Homo sapiens: one gene and its partner. The protein of the gene in region 1 binds, or shares a complex with, the protein of each later gene. Each region holds a gene or a part of one and is shown in the gene's direction. Other genes may lie near its edges. The genes, in order: PSMB10 and PSME4.

The links.
Region 2: PSMB10 (region 1) and PSME4 share a complex: the UniProt entries of both Homo sapiens proteins name them as parts of the spermatoproteasome.

What each region holds. Positions count from the first base shown.
Region 1 is NC_000016.10:67,930,397-67,941,745, reverse strand, and holds PSMB10 (proteasome subunit beta type-10), read left to right. Parts: upstream 1-4,895; 5' UTR 4,896-4,996; coding exon 4,997-5,052; intron 5,053-5,260; coding exon 5,261-5,348; intron 5,349-5,433; coding exon 5,434-5,531; intron 5,532-5,642; coding exon 5,643-5,783; intron 5,784-6,048; coding exon 6,049-6,164; intron 6,165-6,267; coding exon 6,268-6,326; intron 6,327-6,797; coding exon 6,798-6,949; intron 6,950-7,074; coding exon 7,075-7,186; 3' UTR 7,187-7,240; downstream 7,241-11,349. Other genes in the region: LCAT (phosphatidylcholine-sterol acyltransferase precursor), read left to right, coding at 1,268-1,842; CTRL (chymotrypsin-like protease CTRL-1 precursor), read left to right, coding at 9,894-9,945, 10,545-10,648, 10,747-10,826, 10,939-11,020, 11,158-11,338. UniProt on the Homo sapiens protein: The proteasome is a multicatalytic proteinase complex which is characterized by its ability to cleave peptides with Arg, Phe, Tyr, Leu, and Glu adjacent to the leaving group at neutral or slightly basic pH.
Region 2 is NC_000002.12:53,959,124-53,969,988, reverse strand, and holds part of PSME4 (proteasome activator complex subunit 4), read left to right. Parts: intron 1-10,865. UniProt on the Homo sapiens protein: Associated component of the proteasome that specifically recognizes acetylated histones and promotes ATP- and ubiquitin-independent degradation of core histones during spermatogenesis and DNA damage response.

The sequences.
Region 1 (11,349 bases):
AGCAGAAAGACACATGCCCGAGGGAGGACAGCCAGCACCGCCCCCACCATCCCCACACATCCTGGGCCTCACCCACCATCCCCACACACCCTGGTCCTCAGGAAGCCCCGCCTACTTTTTTTTTTCTTTTTCAGACAGGGTCATTCTGTCGCCCAGGCTGGAGTGCAGTGGCGTGATCATAGCCGCAGTCTCAATCTCCCTGGCCCAAGCAATCCTCCTGCCTCAGCCTCCTGGTTAGCTGAGACTATAGGCACACAACACCACACCTAATTTATTTTTGTTTTTTAGTAGAGATGAGGTCTTGCTATGTTGCCCAGGCTGGTCTCAAACTCTTCACCTTAAGTGATCTTCCTGCCTCAGCCTCCCGAAGTGCTGGGATTACAGGCGTGAGCTACTGTGCTGGGCCTTTTAAAAAATGTTTATTTGTTTATTTATGTATTTTGAGATGGAGTCTCGCTCTGTTTCCCAGGCTGGAGTGCAGTAGTGCAATCTCCACTCACTGCAACCTCCATCTCCCCAGTTCAAGTGATTCTTCTGCCTCAGCCTCCCTAGTAGCTAGGATCACAGGCATGTGCCACCACGCCTGGCTAATTTTTATATTTTTAGTAGAGATTAGGTTTCCCCATGTTGGCCAGGCTGGTCTCGAACTCCTGACCTTAAGTCATCTGCCTGCCTCGGCCTCCCAAAGTGCTAGGATTACAGGTGTGAGCCACCGTACCCGGCCCTATTTATTTATTTTTTAAGCTGGAATCTCACTGTGTCACCCAGGCTACAGTGCAGTGGTGCGATCATAGTTTACTGTAACCTCAAATTCCTAGGCTCAAGCAATCTTCCTGCCTTTGCCTCCTGAGTAGCTAGGACTAGAGGTGCACTCCACTAAGCCCAGCTGATTTTTTTTTTTTTTTTTTTTGTAGAGACAGGGTCTCACTGCATTGCCTAGTCTGGTCACGGACTCCTGGCCTCAAGTGATCCTCCTGCCTCAGCCTCCCAAAGTGTTGGGATTACAGGGGTGAGCCATGGTGCCTGTCCCTGCCATCCTTTTGAAGCCCTACAGCTCCACCCAACAGAGGTCTTATCAGGGCTTCTCATTGAGTAAGCTGACACTGAGCATCATTGAATATCAGGCCTGCTCAAGCCTGTGGCTTAGAGTCTGTGTCTAGATTGGGCAGGGACAAGATTGAGCATCTGGCTGAGCCTACACTCAGCAGGTTGTGGGCCAGGGGTAGCCAGGCCTGGCTCCCTGTCCCACCTTGCTCCATATCCACAGGTGACAACCAGGGCATCCCCATCATGTCCAGCATCAAGCTGAAAGAGGAGCAGCGCATAACCACCACCTCCCCCTGGATGTTTCCCTCTCGCATGGCGTGGCCTGAGGACCACGTGTTCATTTCCACACCCAGCTTCAACTACACAGGCCGTGACTTCCAACGCTTCTTTGCAGACCTGCACTTTGAGGAAGGCTGGTACATGTGGCTGCAGTCACGTGACCTCCTGGCAGGACTCCCAGCACCTGGTGTGGAAGTATACTGTCTTTACGGCGTGGGCCTGCCCACGCCCCGCACCTACATCTACGACCACGGCTTCCCCTACACGGACCCTGTGGGTGTGCTCTATGAGGATGGTGATGACACGGTGGCGACCCGCAGCACCGAGCTCTGTGGCCTGTGGCAGGGCCGCCAGCCACAGCCTGTGCACCTGCTGCCCCTGCACGGGATACAGCATCTCAACATGGTCTTCAGCAACCTGACCCTGGAGCACATCAATGCCATCCTGCTGGGTGCCTACCGCCAGGGTCCCCCTGCATCCCCGACTGCCAGCCCAGAGCCCCCGCCTCCTGAATAAAGACCTTCCTTTGCTACCGTAAGCCCTGATGGCTATGTTTCAGGTTGAAGGGAGGCACTAGAGTCCCACACTAGGTTTCACTCCTCACCAGCCACAGGCTCAGTGCTGTGTGCAGTGAGGCAAGATGGGCTCTGCTGAGGCCTGGGACTGAGCTGGGCACCCTAGATGTACAGCTGCCCACTCTCCTGGTCGAGCTGTTGAGGCAGTGTGCACCGTGCCTGCCTCTGTGCTGGGCGCGGGGACTGGAGCTGGCTCCACCCACAGCCCTGTCAGAGGAGCACGGGGCGGTGGGGGGGCGGTGACAATTTGAGCTGTCTCTCCCAGCTCCCAAAAGGGCAGGTGAGACGACCTTTTGAGTGCTGGGTGAATGACAGGGCCACAAGTGTTTAGAGGCCGGGCACGGTGGCTCACGCCTGTAATCCTGGCACTTTGGGAGACCGAGGCAGGCGGATCACCTGAACTCAGGAGTTTGAGACCAGCCAGGCCAACATGGCAGAAACCCCCGTCTCTACTAAAATACAAAATATTTGCCAGGCGTGGTGGCATGCATCTGTCGTCCCAGCTACTCAGGAGGCTGAGGCACGAGAATCATTTGAACCTGGGAGGTGGAGGTCACTGTGAGCCGAGATCACGTCGTTGCACTCCAGACTGGGCGGCAGAATGAGACTGTCTCAAAAAAAAAGAGACTGGGTCTCAAAAAAAAAAAAAAAAAAAAAAGTTAGAATTAAAATCTGGGAGTGACAACCATTAATCAGATCATTTCACTAATGGAAGTTTAATTACTAATGAAGCTAAATGCTCTGAGAAAAGCTTAGGAAGCACAAGAGGCTGAGCCTTTCAGGTCAGCAAAGACTTCCCAGAGGAGGCAGTGCCTACACTGAGGTCAGAGTGACAAGAAGAGTAATGGACCACTGTAAAGACTTGGGTTCGGCCGGGCGCGGTGGCTCACGCCTGTAATCCCAGCACTTTGGGAGGCCGAGGCGGGTGGATCATGAGGTCAGGAGATCGAGACCATCCTGGCTAACAAGGTGAAACCCCGTCTCTACTAAAAATACAGAAAATTAGCCGGGCGCGGTGGCGGGCGCCTGTGGTCCCAGCTACTCGGGAGGCTGAGGCAGGAGAATGGCGTGAACCCGGGAAGCGGAGCTTGCAGTGAGCCGAGATTGCGCCACTGCAGTCCGCAGTCCGGCCTGGGCGACAGAGCGAGACTCCGTCTCAAAAAAAAAAAAAGACTTGGGTTTGACTTGATTGAGCCCAGGAGTTCGAGACAAGCCTGGGCAATATAGTGAGACCTCATCTCTACAAAAATTTTAAAAATTAGCCTGGTGCGGTGGCTCATGCCTGTAATCCCAGCACTCTGGGAGGCCGAGGTGGGCGGATCACTTGAGGTCAGAAGTTTGAGACCACCCTGACCAACATGGAGAAACCCCGTCTCTACTAAAAATACAAAATTAGCCGGGCATGGTGGCGCATGCCTGTAATCCCAGCTACTCGGGAGGCTGAGGCAGGAGAATTGTTTGAACCTGGGAGGTGGACGTTGCGGTGAGCCAAGATCACACTATTGCACTCCAGCCTGGGCAACAAGAGCAAAACTCCGTCTCAAAAAAAAAAATTTATTTTTAAATTAGCCAGGTGTAGCCACAGCTGTAGTCAAATCTACTAGGCAGGCTGAGGTGGGAGGATTGCTTGAACCTGGGAGGCAGAGGTTGCAGTGAGCCAAGATGGTGCCACGGCATTCCAGCCTGAGCAACAGCAAGACCCTGTGTCCAAAAAAAAAAAAAAAAAAAACCGTAAAATAGGCCAGGCACAGTGGTTCATGGTTATAAGCCTAGCACTTTGGAAGGCTGAGGAGGGTGGATCGCCTGAGCTCAGGAGTTCAAGACCAGCCTGGGCAACACGGTGAAACCCCATCTCTACCAAAAAAAAAAAAAAAAAAAAAAATTAGCCAGGCATGGTGGTGTGTGCCTGTGGTCCCAGCTACTCAGGAGGCTGAGGTGGAAGAGTGCTTGTGCCTGGGAGGCAGAGGTTCCAGTGAACCGAGATCACACCATTGTACTCCAGCCTGGGCAACAGAGTAAGACCCCATCTCAAAAAAAAAAAAAAAAAATTAAGATAAACCCTTTGGCAGCTGCGTGCTGCTCTTAGCCTCAAACCCAAGTCTTTTTTTTCCCCCTTTGAGACGGGGTCTATTGCCCAGGCTGGAGTGCAATGGTATGATCCATACTCACTGCAGCCCCGAACTCCTGGGCTTCCAAAGTGCTGGGATTACAGGTGTGAGCCACCAGGCCCAGACTGCTGAAGGGTTTAAACCAGAGAAAGAATGTGACCAGATTTCCAATTTAGAAAGACCCGCTCTCTGCAGGGTAAGGAGTAGCCTGGGGGTCGGGGGGCGGGGGGCAAGAATTGCAAGGTAACCAGGGAGGCCAGTGCAATGTCCAGGTGGGAGAGGATGCTAGCTGAGACTAGAAGTGCTAGGAAAAGGATGTGTGCAGACAAGAGGTCACTGGGGAGGTGAAATAACAAGGCTTGGCCATGAGTGGAACCCAACACCCATGGTGCCCTCTTGAGAGAGGGAAGATGGCACCTGAGATGGAAGATGGAAAGACCAGGGTCCCTGTGACTGAGGACTGAGCCTCTGTTTGAGGTTTTTGCAGAGGAGTAAAGGCAACAAAAGAGGCAAGAGTTGGAAGAAAGGTGACAAGGAACAAAAGTCAGCTATGCCTGATGCTACTGGGTGGCCAGCAACAATGCTGACTTGGCCAAGGCTCTGAGAGCTTTACTATGCTGGGACTGGAGGTCAGAGTTGAGGCTAGGGTAAGAGCAAGGGGCTCAGATGGAGGGGGAGGAGGACCTGAACAAGTCCAGAAGGGAAGAGATTTGTCCCTCTATCCAACAGAGTACCCAGTGAGCAGCACAGAGGGCACAGCAAGGGACATCACCCGGTTCCCCAAATGCTCAGAGCCACAAGTGAAGCCAAAAGTGAAAGACAAGATGCAGAAAACCGCCACGGGCCTTTGAGGAAGGGTAAAGGCGAAAGCGAAAGCAGGAAGTACAGACGTGAAGCCTAGCAGAGGACTTTTTAGCTGCTCACTGGCCCCGCTTGTCTGGCCGACTCATCCGCCCGCGACCCCTAATCCCCTCTGCCTGCCCCAAGATGCTGAAGCCAGCCCTGGAGCCCCGAGGGGGCTTCTCCTTCGAGAACTGCCAAAGGTGAAGCGGGGGCGCGGGGGGCGGTCACTCCTGAGCCGCCTCTGCTTGCTCGTGGCCTTTTTTCCTGGCTGGGGGTGGGGGAGGGTGTGTTGGTCGACTTGGGTTCCAGGCTTACCCCGGAAGATGAGGGAGACGGGGACCAGGTTAGGGGAAGCAACAGGGGTCTTGAAAGCAGAGCCGAAACATGGGCGCCCTCCTCCGTTTCCAGAAATGCATCATTGGAACGCGTCCTCCCGGGGCTCAAGGTCCCTCACGCACGCAAGACCGGGACCACCATCGCGGGCCTGGTGTTCCAAGTGAGCAGCGGGGAGGGACGGGGAGCTGGAGGGGAGCCGAGAGTATCGAGCAGGCACTGAAGCTGCGGTCCCTCCCTCTCCTCAGGACGGGGTCATTCTGGGCGCCGATACGCGAGCCACTAACGATTCGGTCGTGGCGGACAAGAGCTGCGAGAAGATCCACTTCATCGCCCCCAAAATCTAGTGAGACTCCCGAGCCCAGTTCCCGTACGCAAAAAAGAACGGCCCCCTCGTTCCCACTCCGGTCCCCGCACGTCCCAGCCCTGCCCACACCGATCCTCCCTTTTGCCTCAGCTGCTGTGGGGCTGGAGTAGCCGCGGACGCCGAGATGACCACACGGATGGTGGCGTCCAAGATGGAGCTACACGCGTTATCTACGGGCCGCGAGCCCCGCGTGGCCACGGTCACTCGCATCCTGCGCCAGACGCTCTTCAGGTGCGGGGGCAGGGCTAACAGGACCCCGGCAGGGGTAGTTACGGGGTTGGGGCCATTGGAAGGCGGGACAGAAAGAAGGGCGGGACCGCGACGGGCCAGGTGACCGGAAGAGGCCGGCCCAAGAGAACCTGGGCTACAGGAAAAGGCGATGTCAGTCATCGGGCGCCAGCCCACAGGAAGGGGCGGGGATAGCACCTAGGAGCTGGGCATAGAGAGGTGGGGCCTAGGCCCCAGCTTGTGGCCGACCCCGCCCATCCTCGAGCAGGTACCAGGGCCACGTGGGTGCATCGCTGATCGTGGGCGGCGTAGACCTGACTGGACCGCAGCTCTACGGTGTGCATCCCCATGGCTCCTACAGCCGTCTGCCCTTCACAGCCCTGGGTGAGCGCTTCTGTCCCTTCTCCTCGAACTCTGCCCCTGTGACCTTGGCCTCACTCCAAACGGCGTCGCAGCGGTTGACTTCAGATGCTTCTCCTGCCTTCAGGCTCTGGTCAGGACGCGGCCCTGGCGGTGCTAGAAGACCGGTTCCAGCCGAACATGACGGTGAGCGGCCTCTGTCCCCGACTTTGTGGTCGCTGGTGGGATGTGCACCCGGGAGCTGGGGGAGCACAGGACCCTGGCCCAGTGCGGGTGGCTAAGGCTTGTCGGAGGAGGTGACCACTGAAGGGTGAGTGGAGTAAGGGCAGAGAAGTGCGGTCCCGACATAACACCGTCCAATACCAAAGCCTGCACGGCTGGGAGAAGTCGAAGCTCACAGAGGATCTTTAGGAGCCGAGGGCGGAGAGAAGGACCAGTAGGGTCCTACTTATATCAACGTCTGGAGCCTAGATTTTGTTTGGGGTGGGATGGAAGCAGGTGATGTTGCCTCAGAGGTGGCTAAGGCTCAGAGGGAGAAACACAGTGGGGGTTTGGAGGGCAAGACCAGATTGGGTAAGTGGACAGGCAAGTCCCCAGGCTGTAGCCTAAGTTAACAGCAGAGAGAGCCCGTTAGGTCTCACACACCCATCACCGCAGCTGGAGGCTGCTCAGGGGCTGCTGGTGGAAGCCGTCACCGCCGGGATCTTGGGTGACCTGGGCTCCGGGGGCAATGTGGACGCATGTGTGATCACAAAGACTGGCGCCAAGCTGCTGCGGACACTGAGCTCACCCACAGAGCCCGTGAAGAGGTGAGAGCTGGAGATCGGGGACCACAGGGATGTGTGGGGCTATAGCAGGGGAGATAGGGGGCTGCAAAAAGGGGATGGGCCACATGACAGGCCCATGTTCAGAGGCTGTCCCTCCTCCCTCCCAGGTCTGGCCGCTACCACTTTGTGCCTGGAACCACAGCTGTCCTGACCCAGACAGTGAAGCCACTAACCCTGGAGCTAGTGGAGGAAACTGTGCAGGCTATGGAGGTGGAGTAAGCTGAGGCTTAGAGCTTGGAACAAGGGGGAATAAACCCAGAAAATACAGTTAAACAGATGGCTGTGTCATTCTTGAGTGGAATGGGGTGGGCAGGCAGCCAGCAGGGCTCTGTAGCTAAGGCGTCCCTGCAGGGGCCATTACCTACCATAGCTCTAGTGTCTGGCCTAAGAGATGCCCTTCACCCATAACCTCAGGCACCTACAACTCCAGAACCCCAGCCCTGGCCAGCATTGCAGGCTTGGTCTCCACCCAAACCTTCCTTCTGACTCCACACTTGAAGGCTCCCCCACCACTCCACTGTCTTGCTCTTGCCCTCTAGTCCACTGGAGACTTGTAAATTATGAAATACCCCATGTACTACCCCCTCCTAGAGACTTTCCATGGCTCCTCAGTGGCCCAGGACAAAGCTCATACCTTTCAATCAGGCCCCCACAGGCCCCACTGAGGGCTAAAGTGCTGACAAGAGGAGCCGCTCCCTGACTCCAAGGCAAGTTCTCACCAAGCACTCCTCAACCTCGCAACATCTTTACCTGTGACACCCCTTAGATGACGAGGCATGCCTGCACTGCTCACGTGAAGCTCGTCTTCTGTCTGCACATGCTGGGCTTGTGACTCCAAGTTTTCCAGGCTAATAAGGGTCACAGGACTCACATGGGGAGAGATGACACGTTTCTCCAACAAACCTTTGCTGGGCCCCTGCTGAGTCTCAGGCCTGGCTGCTGGGTGCCAGCAAGAGCATCCTGTCCTCAGCGAGAACGGCTGAACTCCGCTGGAGCTTCAGAAATGTCAGGGAGAGTCTACCCAGGGCCCAGGGAGGGTCTATGCCGGGCTGCACATCCCCAGGCCGCTGAGTGTGCTCCCTGCACCCCAACATTCTATTAATGAACATTTGTAAATGTAACAGAAAAGTAGAAAGAGTTGTATATTGAATACCCTTATACTGTCAGGTCACCACAGACCTGACAGTATTTTGTTATATTTGTTTTATCATCTATTCATCCCTCTATCCATTAATTCATCGCTCCTTTTTTTTTTTTTTTTTTTTTTTTTGAGACGGCGTCTCGCTCTGTCACCCAGGCTCTGGAGTGCAAATATTTTGTTATATTTGTTTTATCATCTATTCATCCCTCTATCCATTAATTCATCGCTCCTTTTTTTTTTTTTTTTTTTTGAGACGGAGTCTCGCTCTGTCACCCAGGCTCTGGAGTGCAGTGGCGCAATCTCAGCTCACTGGAAGCTCCGCCTCCCAGGTTCACGCCATTCTCCTGCCTCAGCCTCCCGAGTAGCTGGGACTACAGGTGCCCGCCACCACGCCCGGCTAATTTTTTTTTTTTTTGTATTTTTAGTAGAGACGAGGTTTCTACTGAACCTGTTAGCCAGGATGGTCTTGATCTCCTGACCTCATGATCCGCCCGCGTCGGCCTCCCAAAGTGCTGGGATTACAGGCGTGAGCCACCGTGCCCAGCCAATTCATCTCATTTTTTGGCTGATGCTGTTTCTTTGAGATGGGGTCTAGCTCCATCGCCCAGGCCGGAATGCAGTGGTGCACTCATGGCTCACTGCAGCCTTGAACTTAAGGGCTCAAGTGATCCCTCCTGCCTCAGCCTTCTGAGTTGCTGGGACTACAGGTGTGTACCATCATACCCAGCTCATTTCTTAATTTAAAAAAATTTTTTTTGTAGAGACAGGGTTTCATGATGTTGCTCAGGCTGGTCTCGAACTCCTGGAATCAAGCCTCCTACGTCTGCCTCCCAAAGTTTTGGGATTACAGGTGTGAGCCACCACACCCAGCCCTGATCTGTTCTTGAATCAGTTAAAGCCCTCACACTCCCAGAAGGCCGCCAGCCAATGCACCTGTTGGAACTTTGCACACAGGGTGTCTTCTCCCTTCAAGCTTGGTCTGCAGCTCAGTAACAAATGGGCTACAGACACCAGGGGCTTGCCCATGGGAGCCCCAAGGCCTAAAGAGGGTGGCAGAGATTTGATGTCTGTCACTCTCCACCTGCAGCCTCAGTCCACGGTCGGCCAGGCACCAAGAGCTCACACTTTGCCCTCCTAAATGCCAGGCCCTTCATAAGTATCATCTCATTGTTAAGAGCGGAGGCTTCAGCGCCAGACAAATGCGAGTTTGTGTACAACTCAACCACGTGCTGGTGGGAGAGTCACCATCTCTGAGCAGACCTGTGACTCCTGTTCCAAATGGACGAGGAACCACTGCGATGATGTGTTAGGACTCCCAGCCTGCCAGAACCTCACAGCCCCTGGCCCTTCACAGCAAAGTTGACCGCAGTGAGCATTCCATCCACCAGTCAGAACACCCTGGACGCTGAGCGGCCTTCTCTGAAAGCCTGGTGCCTTTGTTAGCCCTGGGTGACTCCTGTGATCCCAGCCACCAGGTTGTCACTATAGACCTAATTTAACCATCTGTCCTCAGTACCGAGGGCTCAACATTTGGAATGGGAGGTGGTTCTGGGAGCCAATTAGAGGCCAGGCTTTGGGAGGTGGCAGAGGTGAGTCTCACACCTGGGCTCTGTCTGATAAGTCTAGGTCTCGGTCAGGGGACCTTGGCCTAAAGGGCCTGTCTTGCCTGGAGCGTGGGAGGGGGCTGAGTCTACACAGCTGGCCTGGCCTCAGGCCTGGAGCTTTAGCTCAAGGACGAGAAGACCCATAAAGCCAGACCCAGCTCCCAACCTCACATCTGCCACGATGTTGCTGCTCAGCCTGACCCTAAGCCTGGTTCTCCTCGGCTCCTCCTGGGGTGAGTGGGCCAGGACCAGCCCTGATTCAGCCCTGGGAGCAACTCAGCTCCCAGCAACAGCCCAGGGAAGGAGCTAGGCTGGCTGGAAGGGACGAAGGTGGACAGAGTGGGCAAAAGAAACAGGATATGCCAGGGCAGTGGAGCAGGGAACAGGCCTGCAGGGCTGGGAGGGGGCAAGAGGTGGGGTGGTCTCACAAATAGGACCAGAGATTGAGCCAGGCCCTGGAGCCCGGGAGGGTTTAGGAAGCTGAGACAGGAAGACCTGTCCATGTCTTTTAGAAAGAACCTTCTGGCTGCATGAAGGGTATGAACTGTTCAGGTCGGGAGGGGGCAGAGAGACCAGGGGTAGAGATGGGGAACAGCGGGGACTAGGCTGGAGACAGATGTAGGAGAACAGCAGGGCTGGGGGACTGGGTGGATAGGGATAACCAAGATAGCTGTGGGGCCCGAAGGTGCTTGCATGTACCCTGTTGGGGAAGGGGTAGTGCTGTACCCTCTCGACAGACCTCTCTGGGGTGCACAGCCTGGGGCACCCAAAAGGAGGTGGGGAAAGATGGGCTGAGGCATGGGAAGCAGGTCCTCATTAGCCCAATGGCCAGGCTGCGGCATTCCTGCCATCAAACCGGCACTGAGCTTCAGCCAGAGGATTGTCAACGGGGAGAATGCAGTGTTGGGCTCCTGGCCCTGGCAGGTGTCCCTGCAGGTACACCACCAGAGGGGTGGGCAGGGTCCTGGGTACGTCATGCCTAGGGGCAGCCTCAGCAGCCCACCCCCACTCTGACCTCTGAGCCCTGACCACAGGACAGCAGCGGCTTCCACTTCTGCGGTGGTTCTCTCATCAGCCAGTCCTGGGTGGTCACTGCTGCCCACTGCAATGTCAGGTGAGTGCCTGCATTCCACCTGCCCCGCCCCTCGCCTCTTCCTGCCTCCTCCCCTGGCTGTCCCCCTCTCGCGCTGGCCTCCCTGCAGCTGCCTAATCCCACCCCCTTGCAGCCCTGGCCGCCATTTTGTTGTCCTGGGCGAGTATGACCGATCATCAAACGCAGAGCCCTTGCAGGTTCTGTCCGTCTCTCGGGTGAGTGCCTGGGCTGCAGACACGGAGGAAAAGTGGGCAGTGCAGGTGGGTGGGTGCTGGGAACGAGGAATTCAGGACATGCCCTGGCCTACCCTGCTCAGCACCCATCAGAACATGGACTGTTTCTGACCCCACAGGCCATTACACACCCTAGCTGGAACTCTACCACCATGAACAATGACGTGACGCTGCTGAAGCTCGCCTCGCCAGCCCAGTACACAACACGCATCTCGCCAGTTTGCCTGGCATCCTCAAACGAGGCTCTGACTGAAGGCCTCACGTGTGTCACCACCGGCTGGGGTCGCCTCAGTGGCGTGGGTAGGGACTCA
Region 2 (10,865 bases), on another chromosome or scaffold:
TTGATCGAAAAGGGTCGTTTAAAGTCAGACCTCATTCTTGAGCTTAACGTCTTATGTGGACAGTGTTGTTTTGGATTGTGTGTTGCTCCTGTTGTGACATTTCTTTTGGAGAGACATTTAAGATACTGAGGAAAGTAGGGAAGAGCACTGTCAGGATGTCCAGGGCGATATTAGTATCAGGCTTGTGTTAATTTTTTGAGTTACTCAGATTAAGAGATTACCTAAATCAGTTTCAGGAGTTCTGTTTGTAAACTAGCTTCAAACTATAGTGTCACTGAAATTAGGAAAAAAAAAAAAAAAACGAGTGAAAATACAGTGGGGGAAAAAAGGTTACATTTACTTGCTGGATGGGCATCTTTACTGTGTCCGAAGAGCTTTTTAAGAAAGAATTTTGCTGTATCTTGTTTGGTTAACTGTACATAAAATCTAGTAACATGGTATGTTCACGCATGTGGGTATGGACGGGTGAACACACAAGACATAACTCACTCATTCAGTGTTTACCCAAAGCTGCTGATTGAACTGAGTGATGACTCAGGGTTTTGTAATAGTTTTGTGTATATTCACTGGATGATTCTCATCTGCCAATTATTAAGGGGCCTCTGACAAATTTCTCATTTCCACTTGAGGGGTGGGTGGGACCTTTTTAATTAAAAAGAAGCAAAACTAAAACATGTAATTTGCCCTCTTCAGAGAGTGATCATAAAATGTCAAGGTTAACAGCTCTCCCCTTGACTAGAGTATAATGAAGTTTTTCGTGTTAGGATCCTTAGGAGAATGGAGGTGAGGGGCGGCAGAAGCAGGAATGCAACAGGGAGAACCACGTTTAGTCAAAAAAGAATATTTTATAAATAGTTAAAATCCAAATGCTTTTTCAAGTGAGACTCCTAGGTTTTTGTGTTGCTCAGGCACAGTAAAAATAGTCACTTTGTTACAGTAATTCCCCATTTTAATCACTTGGATTAGACTTGCCAGAGAATACCTACCATTTTTGGGGACGCAAACAGCTTTTTTTAGTGTACATTATATAAATATGCCATGGTGTGAAGGCATATCTGCTTTGGATTTATAAACCTAGAATCTACCAAGGCATAGTTAAGCATTGTTTTCTAAAGTATTTATTGTTAACAAGTTTGGTAAATTAGCACTCCGAGTTTTGTTATTGTTTTGGCTTATTAGATAAAAGTTTGTACCTAGAAAGGGCTAAAAATAACAATGGAGCTAATGTTTGGTGTTTAGGGCTGGATTGCAGATAGCTGATGGCTTAATACCCATGAACCCATAACCATTTATAGCTAAATAACCAGCAAGAAATGCTACTGGGTAGAATTTTATTTTGGAATAGTGGTTAGATGCTGGAAACTGATTCTTGATATTGCACTATGAGACATTTTGAATGCGGTGGGACATGTTGTGATCTTGGGTGTGTTTTTTTCCTAAGTCATGTTAAGGTGACCTGTTCATAGTTGTGCTTGTTGTTTTTTAAGCCTTCTGTGTTGCATAAGTGAACATCTGAATAATGCCAAAACGTGTGACGAAAGCTGAGTGGTGATCATATTTAGTACTTTGTAGAATAGAAAGTGGTAATGAAAAGAAAATCTAGTTTCTCCCACTAGCTCTGAGACTGTGGGAAAGTTACTTAATCATGTGTTTCAGTATGCTTGTGCGTGAAATGAGGGGATTGGACTAAATAATTCTTTTTTTTTTTTTTTTTGAGGTGGAGTCTTGCTTTGTTGCCCAGGCTGGAGTGCAGTGGCAGGATCTTGGCCCACTGCAATCCCTGCCTTTCGGGTTCAAGCGATTCTCCTGCCTCAGCCTCCCAAGTAGGTAGGATTATAGGCGAGTGCCACCATGCCTGGCTACTTTTTTTGTATTTTTAGTAGAGACAGGGTTTCACCATGTTGGTCAGGCTGGTCTTGAACTCCTGACCTCAAGCAATCTGCCCACCTCGGCCTCCCAAGGTGCTGGGATTACATGTGTGAGCCACCGCACCCGGCCTGGACTAAATTCTTGAGAAGCATTTCTACTCTGGTATTCTGCAGTTTTATTTTTTTAATCCTGTCAAGCTTCACATCAGTCATTGTGTGTATCTTTCTACAAGAACTGTTTGAATAATTTGTAAAATACTGGAAACAGTTGCATAGATCAAGTACATTCCTAAAGACCAAAGTGTAAATGCAGTTGAGAGTTAGTGGGACTATCTTGCTGATCAGAAATGTGCACCCGTAATCTGGACATCAGAGGTGTGTTTGGGACCAAGTTCTGGTTTGGAAGGTTCTCAGGCTTTACATTTGGTCCCTCTTTTTGACTTTTTTTTTTTTTTTTTTTTTTTTTTTTTTGAGACAATCTCACTCTGTTGCCCAGACACAAGATAGTGTAGTGGCACTATCGTGGCTCACTGCAACCTCCACCTCCACCTCCCTGGTTCAAACGATTCTCCTGCCTCAGCCTCCTGAGTAGCTGGGATTACAGTTGTGCGCTGCCACGCCTGGCTAATTTTTGTATTTTTAGTAGAGACGGGGTTTCACCATTTTGGCAAGGCTGGTCTCGAACCCAGGTGATCTGTGTGCCTCGGCCTCCCAAAGTGCGGGATTACAGGCTGAGCCACCGCCCCAGCCTTCTTTTTGACTTTTTTCTTCATTTTTAGTAGTTCAGTCCATTTAGAAACTTGCAGGTCTGTTTAACATCTCTGAAGAAAGGTTATTTCTATATTTTTAAATACTTGGCCATGTGATAGAGGCTTTCCTGTACAGACAATTTAAAGTACTAGAACTGTCTGGTCAAGAGAGGTTGTGTGATGTAACACATCACAAGGGAAATTTTTAATAAGGGAAGAAACAAATCAGAGAAGTTGAAACAAATTAGAGAAAGTAGGAACAAATTAATGGTCTTTGGACAATGGCAGACAGCTCATGGACACTGTGAGTGAAATATTGGTAGATAACTTGTATGGCCCATGTAGAGAATGAAGGGAGTTGAAGAAAGGTATTCTTAAAACTTGATTTTGTTATGCCTGTAATCCCAGCACTTTGGGAGGCCGAGGCAGACGGATCACGAGGTCAGGAGTTCGAGACCAGCCTGACCAACATGGTGAAACCCCATCTCTACTAAAATTAAGAAAATTAGCCTGGCATGGTGGTGCACGCCTTTAATCCCAGCTACTCAGGAGGCTGAGGCAGGAGAATCGCTTGAATCTGGGAGGTGGAGGTTGCAGTGAGCCAAGCGCCACTCCAGCCTCGGCAAAAGAGCGAGACTCCATCTTAAAAACAACAACAAAGAAAAAAACCCCAAAAAACTTGATTTTGCCCTCTTGCCTTTCTGGACCTTTCATGAGGGGCTGCGGGTGCTCGTTAGAACACCTCAGGTTATCTGTACGTGAGGTGTATCTGGCCTTGCCTCCAACATTATTATCTTTTTTTTTTTTTGGAGACAGAGTAGCTGGGATTATAGGCATGTGCCACGACGCCTGGCTAATTTTTTTGTATTTTTAGTAGAGACAGGGTTTCCCCATGTTGGCCAGGCCAGTCTCAAACTCTTGATCTCAAATGATCTGGCCACCCCGGCCTCCCAAAGTGTTCGGATTATGGGCGTGAGCCACCGTGGCCTGCCTAACATTATTATCCTGGCAAGATTTTAGATTATTAGTGGTTTTTCAAACTTTAAATTAAGTAGTGGAGTGTTTTATTTTTTATTTTTATATTTTTTGAGACAGAGTCTCGCTCTGTCATCCAGGCTGGAGTGCAGTGGCACAATGTCGGCTCACTGCAGCCTCTGCCTCCCAGGTTCAAGCAACCCTCATGTCTCTGCCTCCAAGTAGCTGGGATTACAGGTGAGTACCACCACACTTGACCAATATTTGTATTTTTATTAGAGAGGGGGTTTTGCCATGTTGCCCAGGCTGTCTCAAACTCCTGGCCCCAAATGATCCGCCCAAGATCTCGGCCTCCCAAGGTGCTGGGATTACAGGCGTGAGTCACCATGTAGTGCCAGTAGTGGAGTGTTAAAAAACCAAATTTTGGCTGGGCGTGGCGGCTCACGCCTGTAATCCCAGTACTTTGGGAGGCTGAAGCAGGTGGATCACAAGGTCAGGAGTTCGAGACCAGCCTCACCAACATGGTGAAACCCCGTCTCTGCTGAAAATACAAAAAAAAGTTAGCCGGGCATGATGGCGGGTGCCTGTAGTCCCAGCTACTCGGGGGGCTGAGGCAGAAGAATTGCTTGAACCCGGAAGGCAGAGGCTGGCTGCAGTGAGCTGCGATTGCACCATTGCACTCCAGCCTGGGCGACAGAGCGAGACTCTGACTCAAAAAAAAAAAAACAAAAAAACACACAACCAAAATTTTAAACTTGAAATTGGATTCCTCAGGCAAATTAAAACCCCACTCATTAAAAAAAAAAATACTTCCTTGATAGTAGAACTCTTGAAACCTCCTCAGGGCTCCACAACATACTGCTGGAAAAATCACTTGGATGCGCTGGGTGTGGCGGCTCACGCCTGTAATCCCTGCACTTTGGGAGGCTGAGATTACTTGAGGTCAGGAGTTCCTTGGCCAACATGGTGAAACCCTGTCTCTACTAAAAATACAAAATTTAGGCTGGTATGGTGGCACTCGCCTATAGACTGAGGCAGAAGAATCGCTTGAACCTGGGAGGCAGAGGCTACAGTGAGCCGAGATGGCGCCACTGCACTCCAGGCTAGGCGACAGAGGGAGACTCTTGTCTTACAAAAAAAAAAAAAAAAATCACTTGGCCTTTCTAGTTCTTTGTTCCTTTTAAACTGGTAAACTGGTCTGGAGGAAAGGGCGGGAAAAGGATGGAGAATAAGCGAATGGATTACTGTTTCCTACAACTTATCCCATCCATGATTCGTGTGTGTGTGTGTGTGTCTGTGTGTGTGTGTGTTTAAACAGAATTTTGATTTTAGTGAAGTATGTGGGTTTGGTGTAAGATGAAGCAAATTTAGATTCCCTGTTTGCTACAGTGACATGTTTTGTATTGTTTTATGATTAAGTGACTATATTATAATGTGAAGTCATTTTAATTGCTAATTAAAACTGTGGCACCCTTTAGAATTGAAAGTACAGTTGTTTTATTATTACAAATATTATGCAGCCTTCGTGGATTGATTATCCCAGTTGAAACCACATAATGTATTTGATTAGATTATGTAACCACCAGAAACTTAGGTGTAGTCAAGGTATGAGTTATCAAATACACAAACCTTCTCTTGTGGAAAGTAATAAGTGGCCACAGGAGCACCCACATTCATATCATCCCCGTGTTGGGAAAGAAAGGAAATGCTAACTGCTGAATCTGCATTGTCTGGTATGAGGCACCTAAGAGTATCTAATGTTTGAGTATTGAAATTGAAGTACACAATAAATGCAAGTGGTTTTATTTGTAAATGAATCTTGAAATCTTGACAAGTTACCAAACTCATCAGTGAGAACCAGTTAGAGAGAGTGATAGAAGAGGTTTTACTTTGTTGTTAAGTGATCATTCAAAATGGGAACCAAAATTTCTTTGTAGTGAGAAAGTTGATTTTCCATAAGGGGAAAAAAAAGGAACTGATTTTGGAGAACATGAATTTCTTTGATAAAGTTGTATAATGTAATAGCACAATAAGACATATTTCATATTTGATTTTTTCAAAAATTTTATTTCTGAGAGCAATTTTAGGTTCACAGCAAAATTGAATGGAAAGTATAGAGTTCCTGTATACCCTCTGTCTCTACACATGCATACATTTGATTTTTCATGATGATGTCACACATATACTTTTTTTTCAAAAATATTTGAGGCCCTTACTGTTTTCCAGAGATCTCTCAGTAATTTCTTGAAAACAGCTTGTCGTTTTCTTTTCACTAGTTAATTGGCTATTTCTTCCTGAACATCACTGGCCAATGAGCATATGTGTGTTTCTGATTTGAAGTTTTCTAATATTTAAACTCTTTTCATTACATATTTTTTATTATGAAAAATATCAAATATTCAAAAGACAATATAATGAACCTCATCACCTATCTTCACTTAATTAACTCATGGCCAGTTATGTTCTTTTCATCATCCCCTTTCCCCATTGTTTTTGAAGTATATTATTTATTCATGAATGTTTCCAGTATATATCTTCAAAGGAAAAGGAATTTTTTAAAAAAAGCAATACCAATACTATTATAAAACCTAAAAAAATTAACATCTATTATCACTTTGATCAATCTCATAAGGTTCTGCTTCTTTGCCAAATTTGTGATTTTACTTCTGAGTTTCCATTTCATTTGCATTTTTTTGCCTAAGGTTTACTGTAATCAAATCTCATGGACAGAGATCAAGAAAATAGCTCATTAATGAACATTTTCACATTATGACATCTTTCATTTCTGCCTTTTACCTTTGAAGACTTAGACTCAATCCTGGGGTAACAAGTATTCTCTTAAGTTACCTTCATTTAAAAAATGAAGACACAAGAGGCTCATAGGTTAGTGTACAGTCATGGGTTAATACAGTGTAGTAGAGGCAGACATCAATCTTCTTTGAACACAATTTTTTGAGTGCAATGCGTGGGCTGGGCACTGGTTTTGGCGTTTGGGATGTATCAGCGCAAGTTTTCTGCCCTCTGGAAGTTTCAGTGCGCTCTTTCTTTTTTGTGTGTTTTTTTTTGAAGAGATGGTCTTGGTCTCTTACCCAGGCTGGAATCATAGGGAGTGCAATCATACCCCCCTGTTTTAACCTTGAGCTCCTGGCCTCGAGCGATCCTCCCATCTCAGGCTCCTGGTTAGCTTGGACTACAGACATATACCACCACGCCAAGCTAATTTTTAAAGTTTTTCTTGAGACAAAGTCTCACTATGTTGCTCAGGCTGGCCTTGAACTCTTGGGCTCAAGTGATCCTCCACCTTTGCCTCCTGAAAGTGTTGGGAAAGTGTTGGGATTACATGCGTGAGCCACTGCATATGGTATGTGTCCTTTTTTTTTTTTTTTTGACACTGAGTCTCGCTCTGTTACCCAGGCTGGAGTGCAGTGGCGCGATCTCGGCTCACTGCAGCCTCCACTTCCTGGGTTCAAGTGATTTTCCTGTTTCAGCCTCCTGCGTAGCTGGGACTACAGGTGCAGCCACCATGCCTGGCGAATTTTTCTGTTTTTAATAGAGATGGGGTTTCACCTTATTGGCCAGGATGGTCTCGATCTCCAGACCTCATGATCCGCCTGCCTCAGCCTCCCAAAGTGCTGGGATTACAGGCGTGAGCCACCGTGCCCAGCTGTGTGCTTTATTCAGTGCACATTTTTGTTCATTTAGGACAGACTAGGCCAGGTGGTAACTTCATCAAAAACATTGAAGAAAATAGGAATTCTGAATGTATTATTTGAAAAGAAAATCTCATTCTGACCACTGTGTTTTAATGCCTTACTTTGAGGCACTAAGAAAGGCAGTTAGAAAAAAGAAATGTACCGTTTGATGTTCTGAGATCTGAATGTCACTTAAGAATGGTTTTCCCAAGTGTTCTTTCTGCAGTGTTGTAAAATAAAATTGTATTTGAAATACCTGTTGTTAATTGAAGTGGAGGCAAATTTTTACTGTTTTTTTTTTTTTGGCAAGCTTGTAAATAAGCATATAACTATATAACTTCTAAGAACTGTTTTTCTTATGGAACCTGGGAATTAACTTTTTTCTGCTAAATGAGACTTATTTTTAGAGAATCCCTTTCGCCCCTGTAAAAAGTAGAGGTTCCTCTTCAAAGACTTTCCTCCCCATCTAATTAGGAATAAATAGTAACTTCTCTTACAAGCAAAATTTATTCAAAGACCCTTGCAAACATTCTTAAATATCTGCTAGCCATAATGAAGAAATCAATGTACTTTATGTTCTTAGCTCCCACAATTTAGCCTAAATATTTGCCCTGGCATGCTTATACTGGTCCAAGCAAGCATTAGGTCATAGCCTGTTCCTCTTCCTTATTTGAAGGTGTTTTTATCTTTCTCAGCATTCCACAAGTTACTTCCTCCTTCCTTTGTTCTCTGCCTTTGCCTCTTTTAAAAAGTTCTAAGTTGCTAGCCAATCGGGACAAATACAGAATGTGAGGTCCCGTTCTAGCAAGTGGAAACCGGACACAACAGTAGGGTGGACGCTTCGGGTTATAAATGACCCTGTCTCCTTTGTTGGGTGTACTCTCCTGGCAAAACTGCTGGCGAGTGTACCTTTTCTGCAGAAAGTATAAAAATGGCCTTGCTGAGGAAATTAAATTTATGTTGAAGTGCTGTTTCTTTACAGCAATGGGGAATGAGCATTTCAAACATCCCCCTTCCCCCCCTTATTTTTAGACAGTCTTGCTCTGTCGCCCAGGTTGGAGTGCAGTGGCGCTGTCACAGCTCACTGCAAACTCAACCTCCCAGGCTCAAGCGATCTTCCCATCTCAGCCTCTGGAGTAGCTGGGACCACGGGCATGTATCAGCACACCCAGCTAGGTTTTTATTATTTTATTTTTATTTTTGTAGAGACAGGGTCTCACTATGTTGCCACGGCTGGTCGCAAACTCCTGGGCTCAAATCTTCCTGCCTCGCCCTCCCAAAGTGCTGGGATTACAGGCATAAGCCACTGCACCTAGCGCCTCTTCCCTCCTTTTCAAATACAAAAATCCTAATCTATGTTTCTGTCTAACCTTTGTAGAAAATTAGATCAAAATCTCATTCTATATGAACACCAAACTGAGAGCATGGTAGTAAAAACGGTAAGCAAACAACAACAGCAACAGAAAACCTCTACATTCATTGAGACCTCTATTGGAATGTTAAAAGCAGCACATACTATAAATATTCCCATTTGGAACCTTGAGGTTGACTACTTCTGTATTTGGTTTACACTTAACATTTCTTCTCTCTCTTTCTTTGAGACTGAGTCTTGCTCTGTCACCCAGGCTGGAGTGCAATTGTACCATCTTGCCTCACTGCAACCTCTGCCTCCCAGGTTCAAGCGATTCTCCTGCCTCAGCCTCCTGGGTAGCTAGGATTACAGGCATGCGCCACCATGCCCAGCTAGTTTTGTACTTTTAGTAGAGACTGGGTTTCTCCATGTTGGTCAGGCTGGTCTCGAACTCCTCACCTCACGTGATCCGCCTGCCTTGGCCTCCCAGAGTGCTGGGATTACAGGTATGAGCCACCGCGCCTGGCCAGTCCAGTGGTTTTCAAACCAGGTGATACATCTGTGGAACATAAAAAAAAATTCAAAAGCAACTGGTACCCAGAGCCCCACTGAAGAACCGTTAAGTTATAGCATCTTTCATGTACGTTTATCAGTCTGTCACCATAGCCTTGTGAAGAAAGCCAGATTTTATGGAGATTAAATGACTTCCCCAAGGGACTGACAGAGCAGTTTGAGTTCTTAACAGAGTTGTAGAACCATGCTGTTCCTGCTTACTTGGCTACTGGTTGAAATCAATAAATGTTATATCCAGAGTTGATTATGTTAGTTGCAAAGCAAACTAGAATAGAAACTTACAACATTTTATTCTGTTATTTCTCCTTGCCACCGAAATATGCATTCTTAATCTGCTCCTCTAGCTAGAGCTGTCTCCTGTGCCTTTTTTTTTTTTTTTTTTGAGATGGAGTCTCGCTCTGTTGCCCAGGCTGGAGTACAGCGGCCTGATGTTGGCTCACTGCAACCTCCGCCTCCCAGGTTCAAGTGATCCTCCCACCTCAGCCTCCCAAGAAGCTAGGATTACAGGCGCCCGCCACCATGCCTGGCTGATTTTTGTATTTTTAGTAGAGATGGGTTTCGCCATGTTGGCCAGGCTGGTCTGGATCTCCTGACTTCAAGTGATCCACCTGCCTCAGCCTCCCAAAGTGCTGAGATTACGGGCGTGAGCCACCATGCCTGGCCTCCTATGACTCTTAATTCTGCAGATGGTCAGATTATTTTGACCTCAGGTTGCCTCTTCAGGGTATAACTTAAGTGATGACAGCTTTCTAAACTTTCAAAGTCAATGACCACTTAATATATGATGAAAATTGGGCTAAAAAAATCAATCCACAAAAATCTGTTAATGCTTTATTTTATTTCACTTTTACATGTTTCGTCTTCCAGGTACTTGGAATGTCATATCTGACTGTCTTATTTGATTGCGAGTTGTTGGCCCAAAGGAACTGTTTGAGTCATTATTGTCTTGTATGTGTTGTTTGCTCTAGAAATGCTTTTTGAATATACAGGTAATTGAAAATAGGGGAGGTGAGTTTATGAAAAAACCTTTCCTCTTATTTGTTCACTCAGTGTTTCTGGCAGTGAGAAGCTTTATCTACATTTTTAATATTATATGTAATGATGAAGGACTTAGTCTTGGAATAAAATCACAGTAATTTGTTCCTGATCCCTTAGTTTTCTCTGCTACTTTTACCTCTCTTTTTTGTTATTTCTATATGGTGAAACCTTGGAAAGAGAAGGAAAAGACTGGAACTGATATAGCTATGGTGAAGTGTTTATTTTGGGTGGGCAGGAGTTGAAGTTACTGCCTGAAATTAATTGAGGGGGTCGTTCAGAGATCTCATGGGTCATGGTAGTTTTCCTTGCTGTAAAATATTTGTCATTTAGCCCTAGCTGTCAGGGATTAAGCAGCTTTTTTTCCCCCCTCTTTTTTTTGAGACAGAGTCTCGCTCTGTCACTTAGGCTGTAGTACAGTGGCATGGTCTCAGCTCACTGCAACCTCTGCCTCCTGGGTTCCAGCGATTCTCCTGCCTCAGCCTCCCAAATAGCTGGGACTACAGGTGCACACCACCTGTACATACAAAATAATTAATAAATAAAAAATACAATAATCAGTAAAAAATACAAAATAATTTTTGTATTTTTAGTCAAGATAGGGTTTTGCCATGTTGCCCAG